Linked DNA regions of Homo sapiens. The protein of the gene in region 3 interacts with the protein of the main gene of each other region in a biochemical or structural test. Each region holds a gene or a part of one and is shown on either strand. Other genes may lie near its edges.

What was found.
Region 1: the proteins of JADE1 (region 3) and UBE2H form a complex in vitro, tested with the Homo sapiens proteins (one study listed by BioGRID).
Region 2: the proteins of JADE1 (region 3) and KAT7 form a complex in vitro, tested with the Homo sapiens proteins (2 studies listed by BioGRID).

Annotation. Positions count from the first base shown.
Region 1 is NC_000007.14:129,830,894-129,838,053, forward strand, and holds part of UBE2H (ubiquitin-conjugating enzyme E2 H), read right to left. Parts: intron 4,169-7,160; coding exon 4,044-4,168; 3' UTR 1-4,043. UniProt on the Homo sapiens protein: Accepts ubiquitin from the E1 complex and catalyzes its covalent attachment to other proteins. E2 ubiquitin conjugating enzyme that transfers ubiquitin to MAEA, a core component of the CTLH E3 ubiquitin-protein ligase complex.
Region 2 is NC_000017.11:49,819,681-49,826,680, reverse strand, and holds part of KAT7 (histone acetyltransferase KAT7), read right to left. Parts: intron 5,345-7,000; coding exon 5,255-5,344; intron 5,032-5,254; coding exon 4,891-5,031; intron 3,480-4,890; coding exon 3,386-3,479; intron 682-3,385; coding exon 535-681; intron 1-534. UniProt on the Homo sapiens protein: Catalytic subunit of histone acetyltransferase HBO1 complexes, which specifically mediate acetylation of histone H3 at 'Lys-14' (H3K14ac), thereby regulating various processes, such as gene transcription, protein ubiquitination, immune regulation, stem cell pluripotent and self-renewal maintenance and embryonic development.
Region 3 is NC_000004.12:128,805,378-128,812,836, reverse strand, and holds the start of JADE1 (protein Jade-1), read right to left. Parts: upstream 3,138-7,459; 5' UTR 2,960-3,137; intron 2,860-2,959; exon of another isoform or gene 2,464-2,859; coding exon of another isoform or gene 2,451-2,463; intron 1,568-2,450; exon of another isoform or gene 1,434-1,567; intron 1,153-1,433; exon of another isoform or gene 1,015-1,152; coding exon of another isoform or gene 996-1,014; intron 994-995; exon of another isoform or gene 863-993; intron 1-862.

The DNA.
Region 1 (7,160 bases), on a different chromosome or scaffold from region 3:
GAAAAATAAGCGATAAAAAGCTTCAGATTTCAGTTAGGGGCTGGCAGTCCCTTTTATCTTTTCAAGTATCACACAATATGTACCAAATACAATCTGTAAATAATGGCCATTTCTTCCCAAGCCCACAGCCAAGATGAGTGTTAGGCTAAATTCAGAGCCCTGGCTCTTCCTCAGATGAGTGGAAAACCTGCGCATGACAGGGCCGGCTCCCCCTTCTCAAAGGGCTTCCTCCCACTCATCCCATCCCTAACAGAATCGCCGAGGTGTTCACGGGCCAGAGAAAGCACAAACATGGATTCAGAAGTCCAAAGAAATGCAGTTCGTTGCGCCCAATCAGAGATAGATGATTTCATTCAACAAGGCTGGAAGCCCAGTTGGGAAGTCGATAAAAAATCTTGCTAACTTTTTTAAATGGCTTTTACTTTTCTAAGTCACTGAAACAAGGAAGGGCCACATGCCATTTAAAATCAAACACTAGTTCCCAGAGACTTGGTGTCCAGAAACTTGACCCACAGAGGCTAGCGGAGGATCTGTCTTTCATGATTCTCAGCCATCCCAACGGGAGGCCTAACATAAAGCATGTGCCAGGCCAATGCCAACTAGGACTTCAGGGGGCCTTTGGAGGGAAAAATTCCTTTGAGAGGAGACATTCCTCAGGAGCTTAGATCAGCCAGCTGGCAGTCAGAACAGCTTTTGAAGTGGATGAGAAATGTTAGGTACTGGAGAGATGATATGGCAACTCCTGATAATGACCTCACTAGGATAAAATGCTGGTTGAAACTGCACAGTAACCTCAAGGAGGGTGATGAAATTGACGACAAAGCCAAATGTCAGTGTCTAAGATGGCTACCACTGACCCTGTGCCCAAAAGCCCCCCGGTGCTGGGGCTTCCAGAGGGAGCCCAAGGGTGGTGGATTCAATGTTGCCAGGTTGCAACCATCTTGCTTGTTGGTGTTTGGCAAGAGCTTGAGCTCAGTTATGTGAACAGGGGCAAAGAATGGCTTGTGCTGGTAAAACTCAAGGGAGGATCCAAAAACTATGGGCACTAAAAAGGGGAGGGAAACCGCCAGAAGTGGCTCTGACCTGCTGCCGCTGCCACCACCTCTAAAGCCAAGAATGTAGAGCCTCTGCCCAGGGATCTGGATGCTCTCCTGAGTGTTGGAAGGGCAGCCTGGAAAGGCATTTGGTGGTGAAACACCGCTGCTCCAGACTTACGCTACCATCTATTGTTGGGGGCCCAGAGTCCTTGGATTCACTGCCAGGCCTTCTTCCAGATCTTTCTGTACCTGTGTGTTTGGGCTCCTACTCCCACCTCTCCCAGGCGCAGGGAGAGGACAAAAAGCATAAGGGACTCTGTTCAACCCAGCAAAAGTCAGTTTCCCAGTGGAGAGGCAAAGCCCCACCCAGAACATAAACATGCATGGGACCAAGGTTAGTGCCCAGACAGGACAGACTTGCACAGAACAAGAGGGCACAGTGGGATCCATGCGGCAATTACAGGAGCTTCCAGCACTAACAGAGGAGCCTTATCCCACCTTCATCACACACACTTAGATGGACACACACACACTCTCGCTCACACTCTCACACATGTGCACACATACACACACTCTCTCTCTCTGCAGCCACACTCAAATCTGCTAAACTCCTACAACCTCCCCCAGCAGGTCATTTGACAATTCTGCATCTTCCGCTCTCTGGTGCTGGGGCTCTGGTCAGAGGCGAGCCAATGTCTTATCATTAGAGAGATGTGGGATTAGGTAAGGGGCAGAGTCATGGCACTGCTCACACACCTTCCCGAAACTGGGGTCTATTCAGTTTTTTGACAAGATCAAAAGCAATTCTTAACTGGTCATTATTTTTTTTTAAGGTAATTAGAACACTATTGTTTATACAATATTGAAAAAATACAATTTTTTATTGTTTGAACTCAAATCACCACCCAGCACTTTAAGCCTACCCTAAATAGCACCTACAATAAATGTCATAGCACAAGCAAACTGCAAAGTCAGCAGGTAAGCAAGTTAGACAGTGCCAGCAGAGAGACCCTCCCTCCCCCAAAGCAATGAGAAGACAGCGTGCTAGGTAAGAGTGAAGTACACCATTACATGTTAAATAGTTAATACTACCCTTCCAGCAAGCCACAGATGCTAGATGGATAACTCAGTACGGTTAACTAACCACAGCCCTACATCACTGCACTTTTTTTTTTTTTTAAAGAAAACCTTTTGCTTCATGCCCGTAATTAACATAAAGTAAGTAAATTCTTTGTCTTTTTATTTAGGAAAATAATCATGCTAAAAGCAAGTTGTACTTTATATAGATTTTCAAACAAAAGATTGATTGTGCTTTTTGAATAAAAAAGATAGGGTATCTTCCAACCTCACTGACTTAAACCTTGTGGAATACAGCACTTCTAAACTAAAAACACACGTCAAAAAGAAAAATTAAATAATCCCAGTGGGATGCTCAAAAATCGTCTTTAGAAGGTTTTAGGATTGGCTAATTCTGCTATTATCTTATTGGCTGCGGCAAAAAAAGAACACAGAGCTGCTGTCTAAAATTTCTCCAAACTCCCCTCCGAGTTCAGCAGGCAACACTCAGATTTGAAAGAAACTCTGCAGCAACCTGGACATATGGTTAGCTGAGTCGACATTTGATTAGCAGGCATTTTAAACTGATTTCCTCTTAACATACGCAGGAGAGAAAACATTTTCTTCCTGCAGGGCATGTTCTACTACATCATATTTCTGAATCCCTTCTTCCTATTCGGTCACTCTCTGAAAAAAGCTGGTTTGTTTTTCCCATGTAGAATCACTCTGGGTACAAGAACCTTTATTTGTTCCAATTATTATTTGTTTTAAATTTAGAACCTGTGTTGGGTCTAAAATACCCATTTCCCACTCCCACAAGCAGATGATGACCAGGCTGCTGCCAAGAGCAGCAGAAAAAGGGAAAACCAAACCAGAACATGAAGGCAAGTACCCAGGGCTTTGCAGTCACCACGTGGGTCGTCTTCTCAAGTCTAATGGTCCATGAGCGGCTTGTCCAAGGAGGCGGCCGCCTCTTGGTAGGTGAAGATGAAATCTGCAACCTTTCTAAGCACAATACACACACACACACACCAAAAAAATAACCCCCCCAGAAACACAACCCTCATATTTAAAGCTCTTAAGTTCAGGGTAGCGGTCTCAAACTGCCAAACACTAGGATGAGGATGTGACTCTGCATGTGTTTTGGATGAGAGGAAGCATCGTCCCAGTCACTTTTCTCCTCCTGTGCTGTCCTTTCAAAAACAGGTCTGGATTTCACGCTCTACCCCAAGAAAAAGAACTGGTTCAGAAAACACTTCCCCAAGTTTCTCCAACAGAACACTGTGGCTGCAGGGCCTGGTAGTGTGAAGGGCAGCAACTGACATATAAAAATGTACTTAAAATCAGAGTCAAAAAATGGTTTTAAGTTTTAATACTCTTAATTAGCTCCCTGCTTTATACTGTAACTCCACAGAAGACATAGGGCCACCTAGGATTCACAGGAAGGAGCAGCTCTGATTCTTACATGGCTGGCTCCGATGCCCCCACAGCAGGCCTCTTCCTCCCCAAGTTTTTCCTCTCCATTTCAAAAAAGCACTATTTTATCTTCACATCCAAGAGCTGGTTGGTTTGGTTTGTTTCTTTGGAAACCAATAAAAGAAGCAATTTTTTCCTGTTCTTTTTACTCACATCTACCTATCAGAGCGGCTATTTCCTTCGACAGTTCAGTAGCACACAGGCTGACTTGGCCACATGGACTCATGAATGCATGCATTCAGACCGCATATTGCTACCAAATGGAATGTGGGAATATGCTATGCACCTCAGGTTGAGAAATGACCAAGAAATCAAGATCTAAAGGGTGATATATAATATATATATATCAATGCTATTATTCATAAAAACCTTGTTTAGTAATAAAAAAAATTGCTTTGTTTAAATATGAATATTATAGTCTGCTTCTCATGGTTAGGAAATAATAGTCTTTCTGAAAAGCAGGTGCTTTTTCTACTACAACTCCATATCCTGGGCCTCATCTTCGGAAAAGTCAGACATAGAGCTCTCCGATGAGCTGTCCCCGGTACCCTCTTCCTGTTCTTTCAGCGCCTCCTCCGTGGCGTATTTCTGGATGTACTCTGCACGGGGTGGGAGAAAGACAACAAGGGCAGTGAGTGGGCAGGCATGTGCTTTGGCGACCCCAAAAAGCTGGCAAGGCTGCGGAGGTTCAAACTTACCTTGAACACCAGGGGGGACAAAGATGACAGTAATCATGATCACTACAGCTAAGGAGAATCCCATAGGGAGACTTCTTTGGGACAGGGTTTCTGCATTTTGCCCCCTGAGGAAAGGGGTATTGGGAAGAGCAACACAGCAGGCTCAGCTTGCAGGGGAATGTGTGTGCTGCAGCACCCCAAGAACTCTTCAGGGACCAGGGAAATGGGAGCCCCACGCTTTCTTTTTACTTTCATCTCCCAGATAGTATAGGACCAGTCATGATTCCATAGTAATTTATAAGGAAATCCTTCATCATTTTTAGATCTGCAGTTACATAATTACGGTCAGTCCAGGTCTATTATTTTAGGAATCGATTTTAGTCTAAACAGATCCTGCCTGTCAGGTTTTTGAAGCAGCTGGCAAAAACCATCGCTCAATCTGCTCAGGACTAAGCTGCTATACGGAGACACCACTCGGCTCTGAGTGGTTTTTCCATGTATAATTTACCTGAAGGTAGATTTCCGCTGCTACAGCCTTGGTGGAACCCTAGGCTGAATAAGACTGCTGAAACGGCTTTTAAGAACTGCTGAATAAACAAACTTGTTCCTAAAAACTCTAAGTGCATACTGTTTTCAAGTGAACAGCCTCCACACAATAGGAAAAGACATGACAGAAACCTATTCAAAATGCAAGCCACACAAAAACACACCCTTGTGGCTTTGTTTTTCCTCCTATAGAGTTGCGGGGACTCACTGCAATAGGAAGATAAGCTGAATGGCCAAATGGGCCTACCAGATTTGAATAACTAGCACAGGGCCTAGCTAAGAATGTTTTTATATTTTAAAAACTGTCTTAAAAAATAATAAACAGAATGTGTGATAAAGGCCACATCTGGCCAATGTGGTCCTTTACAGAAAAGGTTTGCAGACTTGAGACTTAGAGCCCTTCAAATTCATTATAACAAAATTTTATGCTAATGATTTTGATGAGATTAAAGTAGCCCATGATTAGGTAGGAATTTACCTTAATTGAGAAATATTTATTCAAACTTTAACAATTTTATTTTTAACCTCTAATGGGTTGACTATTTTGCGTCTTCCTTTGTAGAAGATAAATATTGACCTTTTTTTGACACTAGAATTTGATACTATCAGCCCTCTTTAATGTATTCAAGGAAACAAATGTATATTAAGTACTTACTAGGACAAGGCCTTTGAGAGAGAGAAAGGAAGAGCAAGGTCACCAATGAGGAGGAGGAAACAGAGGAAGATAAAAGGAGCTGCTGAGTGTCACCAGAGGGAAGCAGTTACGGACGAAAAACGGCCGAGGCAGTCCCAGCCACACTGACCCCCAAGTCCTGCCAGCTATGGCATAGGAGAGGCCACTCCAGGGAAAGGCTTTGTTTTGTTGAAAGTAAGTGGCTGGGATGTTTAAACACAACCTTAAGAGAGAACTATGGCCAGGTGCAGCGGCTCATGCCTGTAAACCCAGCACTTTGGGAGGCCAAGGCGGGTATATCACCTGAGGTTAGGACTTCGAGACCAGCCTGGCCAACATGGTGAAACCCCATCTCTACAAAAATACAAAAAACTAGCTGGATGTGGTGGCACATGCCTGTAATCCCAGCTACTCGGGAGGCTGAGGAAGGAGAATCACTTGAACCCGGGAGGCAGAGGCTGCAGTGGGCCGAGATCGCACCACTGCACTCCAGCCTAGGCGACAGGGCAAGACTCCGTCTCAAAAAAAAAAAAAAAAAAAAAAAAAAAAAAAAGGAGTAAGGGCAAAGATGTAGATTCCACTCAGTATCAGAGAGCCCTGAATGGCAGGCAAAGATGTCACCCAGCAAAGGGTTTTGAGCAGGGAAGTGACAGCTTTAGACAGCTCCAATGGTGCCCAGTGCTACGGGCTATCCAATATTTAAACACTTTTTCAAACATGTACTATAATACAGCGCCAACTAAATATGAACACTGACTGTGTTAGCTGTGTTGGGTTGGTGGTGACTGCCACACAAATGGAAATGTCCAGCAGCAGCTTGGGAGAGAGGCCAGGCCTAGACACACATTCAGAAATCATCTCCCTGGAGGGGACTGACTGAAGCTGTGAGAGGTGAAACAGCTCCTCAGGGATGACAAAGGAAGAGAGGGAGCCCAGGGACCGAGTCCTAAGTGAATGACCACATTTAGGAAATGGAATGAGAAGTTTCCAGAAAGATGAGGGTAAAATGTAACACTTGCAGAAAGGTCCAGCAAAATGGGACTTGAGAAGAGTCCAAAGGATTGGGAAGAAATGAGGGCACAGATTAAGCAGAGGAGGGGAAAAAAACTAGAGGAGTTTAAGGTGAGGACGCAAGAAGTTTGAAAATGAAAAGGAATAAACAGCATGACTCCTAAGAGAGCCCACAGGAGCAGATCACTGCTCCTGAAACAGGGAGACCTCTGATGGGGTGGAGGAGGAAGACTGCATTGGGAGGGGGCGGGGGGTTGGGGGAACAAGATCACAGATTGGTGGTGGGAGTGAGTTTGAGAAATGAGGAAGGGTGTCTCTTATTTATTTCCTATAGTTAGGAACAAAGAAAAGATGCAGGAGGGAAGGGAGAAGATATCAAGGCACAGTAGGAAGTGGGGGTGAGCTCAGGTCTGATGGCCATGATTTTCTGAGATTACTAAGGAAGACAAAATGATAGCCAACATGAACATTTCCGAAGGCTAGGGGTCCGTACGCTGGAGTGAGCCATTCTAAGATAAATGTAGGCTCGGTTCTTTTTGTAAATGGGACTATAGCAGACATGTACTGAAACAGGGCTACTGCTAAATTGTTGAGACAGAATGCATATGTGAACTAGAGAAATATACTCTGCTCCAAGATATCTGTGGTTTGCAGACATTGCTAAGTGATTCCTATGTCAAAATT
Region 2 (7,000 bases), on a different chromosome or scaffold from region 3:
AAGTACTGACAACCTGGCCAAAGTGCAGGTTCCCACCCCTTTGCCCCCAACCAAGGTCTACTTTCCCTTAAAGGAAATCCAAATGGACAGAATCTTCTGTACTCAACCCAATCTGTTTAGAAGGAGTTTACAAAGTATTCATTTGACCAGTCCAAATAACCACAAAAGGATATTACAGCAAGAAGCTACTCTTGGCCCCTTAGAAATCAGGATCAAATATAGATCAAACTAAATTGTTCCACCCTTGCATAAATACACAGGGATGTCTTTCTCAGAAAGATGAACCAAACGATCTGAAGTTTTGCTTCTTGACTTTTATAAGAATTAAAGTGTTGGCAACTCTGGATTTGAGAAGCCAATTAATAACCATTCCCAGGGGCCAAATGCTTTGGATTCCTAGGCAGCTTTAGTGAGGGTCTCCGCAGTGGTCCATATTCAGTGGGCCTTCCGTTCTCACATTCAGGGGAAACACAATACCCAGTAGAGTTAACTTCTTGGGTAACAATCAACCATTCCAAGGAGTCAAAAACCAACCTTTGATAGAAATCTCTTTGCCTTGAAAATTATGCAGGTAGCGGAGAAGTACTTCTTTCCAGTAACTGCGATAGCTTATAAGCCCCAGATCTGAGAGTGGACGTTCTGGGGAGCCAACTTTTTCTTCGACTTTGGAAAGCAAATAACCTGCCAGGGAACAAATACAGACTTTTTCTAGCAACACTCGATCTTATCCTAATAGCAAAAAACTGTGTGCCAACATGGAAGAAGGTTTAAGAAGCACAGTCCACTCCATTAGGATTTAGTCATTCAATGGAATACTGTGTGGTTAACTATAGTATACTGCCTTTGTATAAACAAAAGGGGAAGAATGTGTATTTGCATTTACATGACACAGGAGTCCCCTCTTATTCACAGGGAATGTGTTCCAAAACTCCCAGTGGAGGCCCAAAACTGTGGGTAGTACCAAATCCTATATATACTATGTATTTTCCTATCAACACATATCTATGCTACAGTTTAACTTATAAATTAAGAACAGGAAGAGAGTAATAGTAAAACAGAACAATTATAACAATATACTGTAATAAAAGTTATGTGAAGGTTGTCTGTCTCTCAAAATATCTTATTGTACTGTACTCACCTATTTTTGGACCGCAGTTGACTACAGGTAATTGAAACTGCAGAAAGTGAAATGGCAGATAAGGAGGGCACTACTGTAATAGGCACTAAAAGAACTCTGGAAGCCTTCACCATTATTTTGATAATGAATCTCTGTAGGTGTGTGTTGGAAACAAGGGAGATGAGAAACAAAAATGTGAAGCCACTTCACTACCTAGTTTTTAAGTATTTTTTAAATCTTTGAATGGTAAGAACAGATTAGCTCAGTACCACCTATGAGATAGTGCGGGGTGTAAAAAACCCAAATGATGAAGCCTCTAGTTGTAAAGTCTAAACACCTAACATTCAATTTATACAAAATATATAAAACAACACTATGGAGATGCAGTGTGCAAAGTTCATAATCTGGGGAACCCTTTTAGACAACTAACCTGCTTTCTTCAACAAAAACACAGCAAGAAAAAAATGATGGGAGTGGAAAGTTTTAGACTAAAAGTGAATTATGAGCCACATTTCTCAATCCCACTATCAATTCTACCTGGATCTGAGTATTAAAAAAATAAAAATAAAAAAAAGAACAAAATCACACCAGGGAAATTTGAATATCACAATTTATGACATGAAGGACTTTTTTTTTTAAGGTGTAATAGACCTTATCTTTTAGAGATACCAAAATAATGGCAAGTGAAAATGTAGGTAAAACAAGATTAGCCCCCCAAAAAACGGTAATTACTGAAGCTGGGTGATGGGTATAGAAGCATTTATTATACTTTTGTTAATGCTTAAAAATTTCTATAAAATCAAGTTTATAAGAACAGTGTTACCTATTCAAAGATATATAGTTCCCCTCTTATGTCACTTCCCAGTTCATCTCTTCTCAGGTGACTTAAAAATGAAAGAAGGTGGCCGGGCAAGGTGGCTCACGCCTGTAATTCCAGCACTCTGGGAGGCTGAGGTGGGCGGATCACCTGAGCTCGGGAGTTCGAGACCAGCCTGACCAACATGGAGAAACTCCGTCTCCACTAAAAAAATACAAAATTAGCTGGGCGTGGTGGCACATGCCTGTAATCCCAGCTACTCGTGAGGCTGAGGCAGTAGAATTGCCTGAACCCGGGAGACGGAGGTTGCAGTGAGCCAACATTGGGCCATTGTGCTCCAGCCTGGGCAACAAGAGCAAAATTCCGTCTCAAAAAAGAAAGAAAGAAAGAAAGAAGGCTTGGAAGGCTAATTCTAGGAATTCCAATTTTGATTACAATATACCCTGTCCTATGACAGTGGACATCAAATATAGAATAACACACAGTAGAGTCTTGTTATTCACAGCAGTTATGTTTTATAAAGTCACTGAGAACCTGAATTAGTGAATATTGAACCACTACTCCTACGGGAAATACAGGGAGGGTTAGGTTCCTGCAAGCCTCTGGTCACATATTGGTCAACCATCAATACATAAACTTATTTTATGTTTCTGTTTAAAAATGCCTTATTTAATATACACTGTTGATATCATTAACATTGAACTCACTGCCAGCAACTCTCTAATTCACCTGAAGAAAGCTACCTAACCCCTGTAAGGTACCCCAGGTATTCCTGAGATTAGGAACACCAGACACATCAGTACTACTCATAGGGGCCATTTAAAATCAACAGAAGGCGAAAACCATGTGGCATTCCCAGACTGAAAATGAACTTGTTTACAGTGTAAGAGCTGAAAACTCTGAAGTCAGCTGGGAATGTGTGCATCCATGACTCTTACTTTTTGCTGCTCTGTGCATGTTCACGAATGACCACAAAAATGTTAAGATTGATTTTGGGGTTACAAATAAAATTTAGTGAGTAAGCAAATTCACAAAGACAGAATCCACAATTAATGAGGGCAGAGTATATTATGCACAGGGTCCATTGGGTACATGGATTACCTCTAGACAAGTCCCTACAAAAGTGAAATCCCTAGCATCAAGGACCAGATTTTAAGCCTCATGCATGTATGTGCTGTTTAAAAGTCTCAAACTGGGATAATCCTAAAGAGCTTACTTTATCATCCTCTGTACCTCCTACTCATTAAGGAGGAGTCCTGTACTCCTTCAATGTTCAATGTGTATTAGGCAGAATGACAATGTTCAGGTTTTTCCTACTTGTTCATTCATTTACTAAATATCCATGTACCTTCACTATATTCCAGGAATTGCAGAGACCACAGGACAAAAAGACAAACAATATTCACATGGTCCCTGCCTTGTGGAACTAATGACTTAGCAGTTTCACTTACTGAAATCAATAAGCATCTTGCCATAGCCCTGTCTCATGTACTGAGGCATAGTAAGGATACAGGAGACGTTGTAGTTGAGGAATGAATTCTTTTCCTAAAATCAAGAGCAAACAGATGAACACGTCATGAGGATTTGAAACCAAAGGTTTCAGCACTTCCACAGATGCAAAATAAGGCTGCTTGCAAAACATCTGGCTAACCAGTCCCAAGGAGTGGCTGCCAGGCTCACAGCTGTTATAACCACACCCTTTATCATGGCCAAAGCCATTAATCATCCCAGGATTTCCCTAGTTGAGACCTCCAGTGTCATTTTAAGGAGGCTGACTCTGGGCTCCTGACAGCCACAGAGTAGGGCAAGAAGTTTAAGACTGCTGACTCAGTATATAGAAGCCCACTTTAAACGCAATTTTTGAAAAGGAGCTGCCTACTGGAAGAGAAGGGAAGGAAACACCACTGTAAGTCCCCATTCTGCAAAGGGATTAAAAAAAAAATCACATTGAATCAAATCAAAATGTGTGATTCCACTTGTAGGAAACGTCCAAAATAGGGAAATTTATAGAGAAAGAAGAACTGAGAGGGATTGAGTAGAAATAGGAGTGATTGCTATCAATTTCTTTTCAGGATAATGCAAACTGGGTTGATTGCACAACTCTGTGAATACACTATAAACCACTAAATTGTACCCTTTCAGTGCGTGAATTTATGGTATATGAATTATATTTCAATAAAGTTGTTATACTAAAAGTCATAAACTTTTATGACTTAGGCCGGGCGCAATGGCTCACACCTGTAATCCTAGCACTTTAGGAGGCTAAGGCGAGTGGATTACTTGAGGTCAGGAGTTCGAGACCAGCCTGGCCAACATGGTAAAACACCATCTCTACTAAAATCACACAAAAAATTAGCTGGGCGTGGTGGCAGGCGCCTGTTATCCCAGCTACTCAGGAGGCTGAGGCAGGAGGGTCACTTGAACCTGGGAGGCAGAGGGTGCAGTGAGTCAAGGTCATACCTCTGTACTCCAGCCTGGGCAACAGAGTGAGACTCTGTCAGAAAAAAAAAAAAAATCTGGCCTTGGGTCTTTAAAAGGCGCAGTAGTGTTATCACTGAAGGCACTGTGCTAGAAGGAGCCCAGCTAAACAATCAGGCAAAAAGAGTATATTCCTGGTTTTAAGCTAATAACATAGAGGCAGGCAAAGCCAGCAGAACTGGTTTGACTACAAGATGTGGGCTTGTGAGTTACTAGGGAGGGCTCTGGCCAGTTATTAATAGGCAGCTCCAGTCCACAATTCTAGAAATGAATGAACCAGAAGCTTTTAATAAAAACTGCATTTTCATTAAACAATCTTTGATACATGGGTTTGCCTTTTTTTTTTTTTTAATTTAAGGAAGGGGTGTCATCATTGCCCAGAGTACAGCTTCTTCCTGTCAGTGATTTGAGCCCCCAACTGCGAACATGGATCACCCTGCTCTGGCCATTGGCTTCTTAATCTCCAGATCCTGCTTACCTTAGAAAAATATCCAATCAGGTGACAGCCAGTGTTGTCCGCCTCTGTCATAACATAGAACAGGAAGGGCTCCACATCATAATATAATGTCTTGTGGTCCAGAAAAAGTTTGGCCAACAGGCACAGGTTTTGGCAGTAGATCTGGAAGCAGAGAAACAGAGTTCATGTGTGGGCCACTGATTCCTAAACAGATAAAGGCCTAAAATTCACAAACATACCATAATTATTAATGAAACACATTGTGTATTTTGGCAAGAGAAGAGTTCTATGTCCTTCACAAGGTGTGATGGAGAAAAAACATATGCCTTCTGAAACCTGTGAATATACAACATTTCAACTCCTTTCTAAAGTCACCACTTTTTACCTTGTTTTTCTTGCCATCCACTTCAAACACAGAGATTGAACCTTTGCGATATATCTCATCACCAGGTGGGTGTTTCCACACACATTTGGCCTGCAAGACAATGAAATTCACATCAGGGAACCAAAGCCTCCCAACAAGACTGCTCCTCAAAAGGGAAAAGGAATGACAGGTCAAATGTGGTTAACTGAGCTACCGGACAGTTGGACAAGCTGAGAACATACAGCAAAACAGAGATTTTATTTCCATAAAACAAAGGCTTCCAAAGTCATTTGAATATATTTATGACACTTTTATAGCAATCTGGAACAAGTATTCTGGATTACATTCTGGCACTACTTTAGCCCAGGAGATTAAAATCACCCACTACATAAAGGCCAAATAAATAACAATACGCTTGCTTATTACCAAATGCCTCAAGCCAACAGGAAATTCTTAAGCAGCTTATTTCCAGCAGCTTAGGGTGGCTAAGTACTTTACTCTCACCTTTACCCATAACTTCTCATTACCACCTAACCATGATGGCCTTCTTTGTTCAGATTAGAAAACCCACTCACAATGATAAAAACCATGTACCACTACCTGTCTGCCCTTCTCCCCTGCAAGTGCATTCCCTTTGTTATATAAGGAAATTAAGAGAAAGTCCTGTGGCAAAAAAAGAAAAAAAAAAAAAAAAAAAAAAGGCAAGCAGCCTAGCTGAGCAGCAGGAAGCTAGGGTCACTTGGCCACAAGGGAGCACAAAGTACCCCCTTTTCCTCACCCTCAAGTGCTTACTGTTTTAATGCAGCCAGCCAGCCAGCCATCTGCTGTTAGGTGAATTCTTCAAAAGGTTTACATTTTAAAATGTTTAAGGCCTGATGCGGTGGCTCACGCCTGTAATCCCAGCACTTTGGGAGGCTGAGGTGGGCAGATCACCTGAGGTCAGGAGTTTGACAGCAGCCTGGCCAACATGGTGAAACCCCGTCTCTACTAAAAATACAAATATTAGCCAGGTGTGGCAGCGGGGGCCTGTAATCCCAGCTACTCTGGAGGCTGAGGCAGAAGAATCCGGGAGGTGGAGGCTGCAGTGAGCCGACATTGCACCACTGCACTCCAGCCTAAGTGACAGAGCGAGACTCTGTCTCAAAAAAAAAAAAGAAAAAAGTGTTTAAAAAGTATAGACGTATAAAAAAAAGTTTTTTTTTTTGAGATAGGGTGTCACTCTGTCACCCAGGCTGAAATAGCACGATCATAGCTCACTGCAGCCTCGAACTCCTGGGCTCAAAAGATCCTCCCATGTAGCTAAGATTATAGGCGCATGGCGCCATGCCTGGTTAGTTAATTTTTCAAAAGGGTTTTGAAGCAACAGAGTCTCACTATTTTGCCCAGGCTGGTCTCAAATTCCTGGCCTCAAGCAATCCTCCCACTTCAGCCTCCCAAAGTGCTGGGATTACAGGTATGAGCCACCGCACCTGGCCCATGAAACACTTTCTATTAAGCAAATTTACTGCAACTCTTTTTGTCAACTCAAGAAGCATGTTCCAATTTGTCATATGTAAATCCAAATATTTATTAACTGGAATCCATCCAAGAAAATTCCATCTGTAGTTTGTTCCTATCTCTACCCCTTTACTCATGCTGGCTCTTCCCAACAATAACCAAACTCATGTAACAATTATTATTTGTTCAGAAACAGAAGCCAAGCCAAAGGAAGATCATTTCATTTCAGTGATCACACCTGAAGCAACGGGAATAAGAACAGGCATGGAA
Region 3 (7,459 bases):
CTTGGCCGGGGCAAATAGAGGGCGACAGCCCCTCGCCCCTGCCGAAGTAAGGCAGGGCGCCAGCCCTCTCGTTACTAGAAGGCAAGCTAAAGCTCCTTTTAAACGGTCTCCGGATGACGACGCATTCCTAACGGGTTTCGAAGGCATGTTTAAATCGCCCGCTTTTTTGTTTGCTCTCAGCATTCACCGGCGCCGGGACTGCGGCCGCCCCCACCCGCTTGGGGTGGGAAACCTGGGGCCAGCGGAGCCTGGCGCGGGAGGAATCCTGGGGCGAGGGGAGACCCGGGACGCGCCAAGCCGGGGTTGAGGACTCGAGAATAAGGAGCTCTAGTGGGAGGGTGGCGGAGTGAGAGGGGACGTGAGAAGGCTAAGGATCCCAGCAAGGGGGGCACCCCGGGGTTGTGGGGGAGCTCGGCCGCCGCCCCGCAGCGGCGAACGCTCCGCGCGGCTCCCGCCGCCCGCCGGGGAATGCGCAGGGCCGCGGTTCCGCGCGGCGCCGACCCCTCCCTCTCTCCCAATCCTCCTCCTCCTCCTCCTCCCGAGGCGACAGAAACAACAGCGCGGGAGGAGGGGAAAGTAACTCCCGGCACCTCCGCCGGAATTAGCCCCGGTGCAGTGATGACACCTTCTCGTGGCGCAACCAAGCCCCGCTCCCTCCGCAGCGGCGTCCCCGCCGCCGCCGCCCTCTCCATTTGAAAGTGGCCACCCCCCGCCGCGGCAGCTCCTCCCGCCCCGCCGCCGCCAGCTGCACCAATCCGCTCGGCCCCAGTTGCAAATCAAACGCTCCCTCGCGTCCAGAAGCCACTTGCGCCGCTGGAAACGGCCGCGCCGTCCCCCTCCCCGAGTCCCTCCGGGGCGGCACCTTCGGGCTGGGGCGGGCGCGCCGGCGAGAAACGGTTTTAAGATGGGAGCGGCAGCGGCGGCGAGGAGCTCCGAGCGGGCTCGGCTCCCGCTCCCGCTCCCGCCCCCAGACAGTTCTGGAAACTGTGTATCACCTCTGTCACAGGAAGCCATCCGGCGAGGAAGGCGGCGCGGAACCAACAAACAAACGCCTGCGGCCGCCCGCCGGAACCGGCGCGGGGACCGCGTCGGGCTTCGGGCCGTTCCCGGGGCGGGGGCGCAGCGGCCACCCCCGCGCCGCGGGCTTTGTGCGGGGCGGGCGCGGCGGGCCGGGCGTCCCCGCCCCCGCAACCCCCCACCCCGGCCCGGGCGGCGCAGCTGGGACCGTTAGGTGACGCTCCGGCCGCAGCGGAGAAGCAGCGCCTCGGCCGCCGCCCGCCCCCATTTCCACACTGGGCCGCCTCTCCTCAAACACCAGAGGCGGGCTACAAAAGTTGGCCCCGGGGCCACCCAGCACCTGCCCACGTGCCGCGGAGGCTCGCTCCCGAGTCTCCCCCGGTTCCCTCCCCCGCCGCCCTCGGCCGCCAGGTCACCTATTACCGGTGGGAGGGGAGAGAGGCTGCTATTTAAACGCCCGCGGAAGTTGAGGCACCCCCACTGGCGGGTGCCGTGCACCTGCCTCCCGCCGCCGCGCTCCGCCACTTTGAGCAGCAGCCGCGTCCTCAGCCCCGCCTCCTGCCCGAAGGCGGGCGGGGGGGAGCGGGAAGGAGGTGGAAGGGATCGAATTTCTCCAGCAAATGGGACCGTTCCGACAGGATTCGGTTCCCCGGTCAACATTCCACATTCCATCCCTCTCCCGCATTTGCAAGCCAATGCCGAGCAACCCGGAAAGCCTGCTGGCTACCGAACAACAGCCCCCAACTCGCAAACACAGACTCACAGGCACAAGACACGTGCACTGAAGGGCTCTGCAACTTGCAGTCCCGGGGTACACACTACACGTTCATTTAAGGAAGCAAGGAGACCAAGAGACCCCACCCCCACAATTTGCAGATGGTGCCAAAGGTTGCAATTTGCAATCCCCTTTAAGTTCACGATTAATCGGTACTTTGCTCTACCAACGCCAACTCCTACCCCATTTCATCGATTAAGGGGTTTTACACTTTACAAGCAGTCGCGCTGTAAGTAAAAGATCTGATCACTGGAAGCCCAGTTCGGAAGAATCTAATTGCCAAACTGTCCCTCCACCCCCACCCCCACCCCCCTCTCACTGCCCTTGAATTGATGCAATGAATATTTTGGACATGTGGTGACGCGGTGACAAGAGCCAGGGCTGCGGCCACCACACACAGATGTACCTACGCACACCTATGTTTGGACAAATACAGTCCCACCACACACACGGTCTCACACACTCTGGATTCATATATGTACGCGAACCTGCGTTCTGCCATTGCCATCTGTCTACCAAGTTGCTACTATGCTTTCCACTTTCATGCAGCCTAATGCACTTTGGCTTTCTAAAAAAAAAAAAAAAAAAAAAAAACCTATAAACTAAAGCCAACTTAAACTGGGCTTCTGCTCCTAAACGCGTTTAATTGATGATTCACCTGAAAACCGCATGTTCTTCGCAAATCCAAAAGAAGAAATAGCTCTAAGTCTTCAGCCCCCCAAATTTGAAAAAAAAAATCATAATAAAACTTACTGATCCAACATAGATCAATTCTCAGGATCCAAAAATCATCCTCTCCTCCTCCTCCGGCCCCCGCCCCGGCAATGCCCAAGTTACTGGTGGGATAGTAACGCTGCGCTCAGCGGCTGCCTCCCTCCCTCCTCGCTACAGATCGAGAACCCAATCTTTTGGCGCCATATTAATGACGTATTATATTATTTCCACTAGGCAGCGACCTTCGGCATTAAATTACTCCCGAGAACTCCCGAGCAAAGCAACAAAACCATCAAATATGGCTGAGCCTCTCGGCTCGTCCTGCAGCCGCCGCCGCCGCCGCCGCCGTCGCCGCCGCGGGACCGGGACGCGCACACGGACCCACACGCGGACACGCGCGGACACACGCGCGGCGCGCCCACCCCGCGCGCCCCCCGCGGCCCGCGCGCGTACCTGCTGCGGAGGGGTTCGGCCGAGGCGCTGGGCTGGGCGCCGCTCGCTCGCTCGGAGCTGCATGAGTTCGGGCCGCGGCGGGCGGGGAGCCGGGCGGGCCCCTGCTCTCGCCGGCGCGCACACACCGGGCACTCGCGCACGGAGGCACTCTCGGTCTGGCGTTTGGCTTGTTATGGAGGAAGGACTATGTGAATCAAACTCATTTCTGGGTCACTGCTGCCACAGGGGGGAGCACTTTAATCCCTTGCCAAAACGAGAGGGTGGGGACGGGAGGGCGGAGGGAGCATGCGGGGAGCCCGCGGCGCTGGGGCTCGGTCCCTCGTTAACTCTTCGCAGCCCTAGCCGCAGCCGGCTCAGCCTGCGCCAGTGGGGGCTCGCAAAGAACGGCACTGTTCAGCTCTTAGTCTCTTTCCTTACTTCACCCACCTTGTGAGCCTAGAAATTCTTGAGGTGTCTCCAAGCAAGTGGGTTTTTAAATTAGCCCCTTCAAACTGCTGTCCCAGTTTCAACTCTTGTCTGACATCTAGAAATGGATTCTTTCAGAATAGTTTAAAATTACGTAGATTAAAATATGGCTATTAAGATGTGTCATTTGGGTGAAAGGTTTTATTTTTAGGCTGAGTGGCAAAATAGTTGTTTGTAGTAACAGTTTTAGGGAGTTGCACATTAGGATGACATTTTTAAATAGAGAGAATCCAATTCTGAATAACATCTTTACCTAAATTTGTATGGAAGTGATCATTGCAAATGAGCATTAATTCATTAGAAGATATTATTTATAAATTGACACCACTTTATGTTACACATTACTACAGAATTGGACATCTTCTCCCAAATATGAGGAGTGAGCCTAATGCTAAAACTAGAATTGCAGACTAGTATCAGATCAGTCATCGGAGATTCATTTGGGGGTATTTATGTGTAAAAAGGAGTGGTTACTGATTTTCTGCAGAAGACAAGCTTGCTTTTTCATATAGAGGGCAACATACTTCTTTCATGGATTCATCTAGGGAAATAGAGGGGTATATGACATTCAACTTCAATAAGAAAAAAGTACGGATTAAAAACTCCCATTCAGGCCGGGCGCGGTGGCTCACGCCTGTAATCCCAGCACTTTGGGAGGCCTAGGTGGGCGGATCACCTGAGGTCGGGAGTTCAAGACCAGCCTGACCAACATGGATAAACCCTGTCTCTACTAAAAAATACAAAATTAGCCGGGCATGGTGGTACATGCCTGTAACCCCAGCTACTGGGGAGGCTGAGGCAGGAGAATCGCTTGAACCCGGGAGGTGGAGGTTGTGATGAGCCGATAATGCGCCATTGTGGTCCAGCCTGGGCAATAAGAGCGAAACTCCGTCTCAAATAAATAAATAAATAAATAGGAACAGTGATCACTAATTACAAAATTGAATATCGAACCCAAAAGGCATATGTGTCCACCGGAAGAATCTTTCTGAATATATCAGGTTTGATTTCATGTAATCCCACACCAGCCCAACTACCCACATCCAGACCCACATCCAGAACGTTATAATCTGATAAATGCGACAAAACAAAACTAATTGAGCCTTTCAGTTATTTTTCAGAAAACAAAGTAAGCCAGTGGAAATCCTAAGTACTGTATATGTCCTCTCCTGTTTCGCTAATGAAGAGTAGAAAGACTCCCTGCCAGTCCTATTCATGTGTTCACTTAATCCTGTTCAAAGCGATCACACATGTAAAGCACTGTGTTAACTATCATTATTACTATTCTTAGTATTGCACTTGTTATTGTTATTTTTACTGGTTCACCTCGCACATACTCTCTGTAGAAGTTAAAGTACACAGGCTTTGTAGCCAGACATGGCTGGATCTGGCTCTATCAGTTAGCAGTTTGTGTGCCTGTGGGATAAAAGAACTTTATCTGAGCCTCAGTTTCTTCCCTGGTAATAAAATTAAGTTAACAGCTGGCCCCTAACCTGAAGGGTTGTTAAGAGGAATCAGGCAACCTCATAACAGTTCAGGAGTAGAGGCCCTGGCAGTAGGAGGTTGTCCACTCCCTCGGCCATCACTCAACTCCTTCTTGGTTTTCTCTCCATCAAAAATTGCAACTTTTCTAAATTCCAAACAGCCTTACTTCACGCATTCATGTTAAGAAAATTTTTGTCGACCGGGCGCGGTGGCTCATGCCTGTAATCCCAGCACTTTGGGAGGCAGAGGCGGGCGGATCACGAGGTCAGGAGATCCAGACCATCCTGGCTAACACGGTGAAACCCCGTCTCTACTAAAAATACAAAAAATTAGCCGGGTGTGGTGGCGGGCGCCTGTAGTCCCAGCTGCTGGGGAGGCTGAGGCAGGAGAATGGCGTGAACCCGGCAGGAGGAGCTTGCAGTGTGCCGAGATCACGCCACTGCACTGTAGCCTGGGCGACAGAGCGAGACTCTGTCTCAAAAAAAAAATTTTTTTAACTCACATTTGCTGCTTACTCTTTTATTTGCTTTTTCTATCAAAAACATCAGGCACCAACGAAAGTATTGAATAAAATGGATGACAAAAATAAAGGGATAAAATGGCACACAAACTCCCCACACTGACACATTGAACATGAGTGAAGGTGCCATGTACAGAGTCTCAATTATGCCGTGGCTTCAGAATACTCATCCACTGAAACAGTGCTATGTGCTATAAATAGCCCTGGACAAGAAGTCAGGAGACTCCCACCAACTCCCAATATGACTCTTTGGGCTTTAGTTTCCCCACTGAGATGATAGGAAAAATAATGCCTAAGGCCCCTTTCTCTTTAACATTCAGTCATTTCTGATTTTCTTACCAAACTTAGAAACGTGATGATTATTTGAAGAAATGGCGGACAACTTGAATCCATAAGGAACATGTAAAAATATTTTGTCATCAATGATCAGCAGTTGGCATTTCTTAAATAATAGGTGTCTCTTGCCATCAGACCACAAAGGAAACTCCTATACAACCTATTTCTAAAATGGGAAAGGCAATGATATGGTTTGCCTTGCGGCAGCACAGATAATACAGCCTAGAATAAGAAGTACTAAGCTGGCAATTAGGAAAGCGAGTTTCTGATTCCACTCTGTCACTTACTGTCTTACCTTGCCAAATCATTCCGGATCATCATTTCCTAGTCTCTGGAATAGTTCTTTTTAATTCACACCTTATTATCAGAGATGAAAAGACATTCAACAAAATAGCTACAAGGTACTCAGTGTAATAGAAATATCAAGATTCTTGTCTTTCCTGTTCGTGGTGATAATTACAATTCTATATATCCTGTACATTCTGCTGTAGTCATAAACAGTTTAATTATTTTCTTCCATAATAATGGGTTTTTATGAAATAGAAATTTGGATATTTATATTCATATTCCTGATTTTGAAACCAGACTTGATTAAACCTCTGAATGTTTACTTAGTCATTTCATCTACTTCTCTGTAGGTAAAGAATTATAAGGCCTTGATAAGAGATTCAGAATTGTTCATATTTGAAATGAAGGGATGCATACACTAAAGTCCTGTATTATCTCATTCCTTTAGGGAAATGAGCAAGAAATTCTTACTGGCAAATACCACTGTCAGTTGGTATACATTCCAACGAGATAATTTTTTTTTTTTTCAAGATCAGGGTCTCACTCTGCCACCCAGGCTGGAGTTCAGTGGTCCCAACATGGCTCAGTGCAGCCTCCACCTCCAGGCCTCAAGCAATTCCCCCACCTCAGCCTCCAAAGTAGCTGGGAACACAGGCATGAACCACCACACCTGACTAATTTTTCATATTTTTTGTAGAGACAGGATTTCACCGTGTTTCCCAGACTGGTCTCAAACTCCTGAGCTCAAGCGATCCGCCCTCCTCGCTCTCCCAAAGTGCTGGGATAATAGGCGTGAGCCACTGCGCCTGCACCCAGAGAGAAGAATTTTTTTTTTTTTTACTGTAAAAGGGCAATCTTGGATAAAATGGGTTGTATCCTAAAAGTTTATTTGCATGTACTTTAATTTTTTTGGAATTTTGTGCCAAAAATGTCTTGTTACTAAAGAGGGCTTAGATTGTTGTTTTTAAAAATAATTCTAATAACTAAATGATAAAAAATAACTTTTTATTTTTCAACCAGGCGTGGTGGCTCACACCTGTATTCCCAGCACTTTGGGAGGCTGAGGCGGGTGGATCACTTGAGGTCAGGAGTTTGAGACCAGCCTGATCAATATAGTGAAAACCCATCTCTACTAAATATAAAAATTCGCTGGGCGCGGTGGCTCACGCCTGTAATCCCAGCACTTTGGGAGGCCAAGGCAGGCGGATCACAAGGTCAAGCGTTCAAGACCAGCCTGGCCAACATGGTGAAACCCCGTCTCTACTAAAAATACAAAAATTAGCTGGGCGTGGTGGTGCATACCTGTCATCCCAGCTACTTGGTAAGCTGAGGCAGAAGAATTGCTTGAACCCGGGAGGCGGAGTTTGCAGTGAGCTGAGATCTTGCCGCTCTACTCCAGCCTGGGT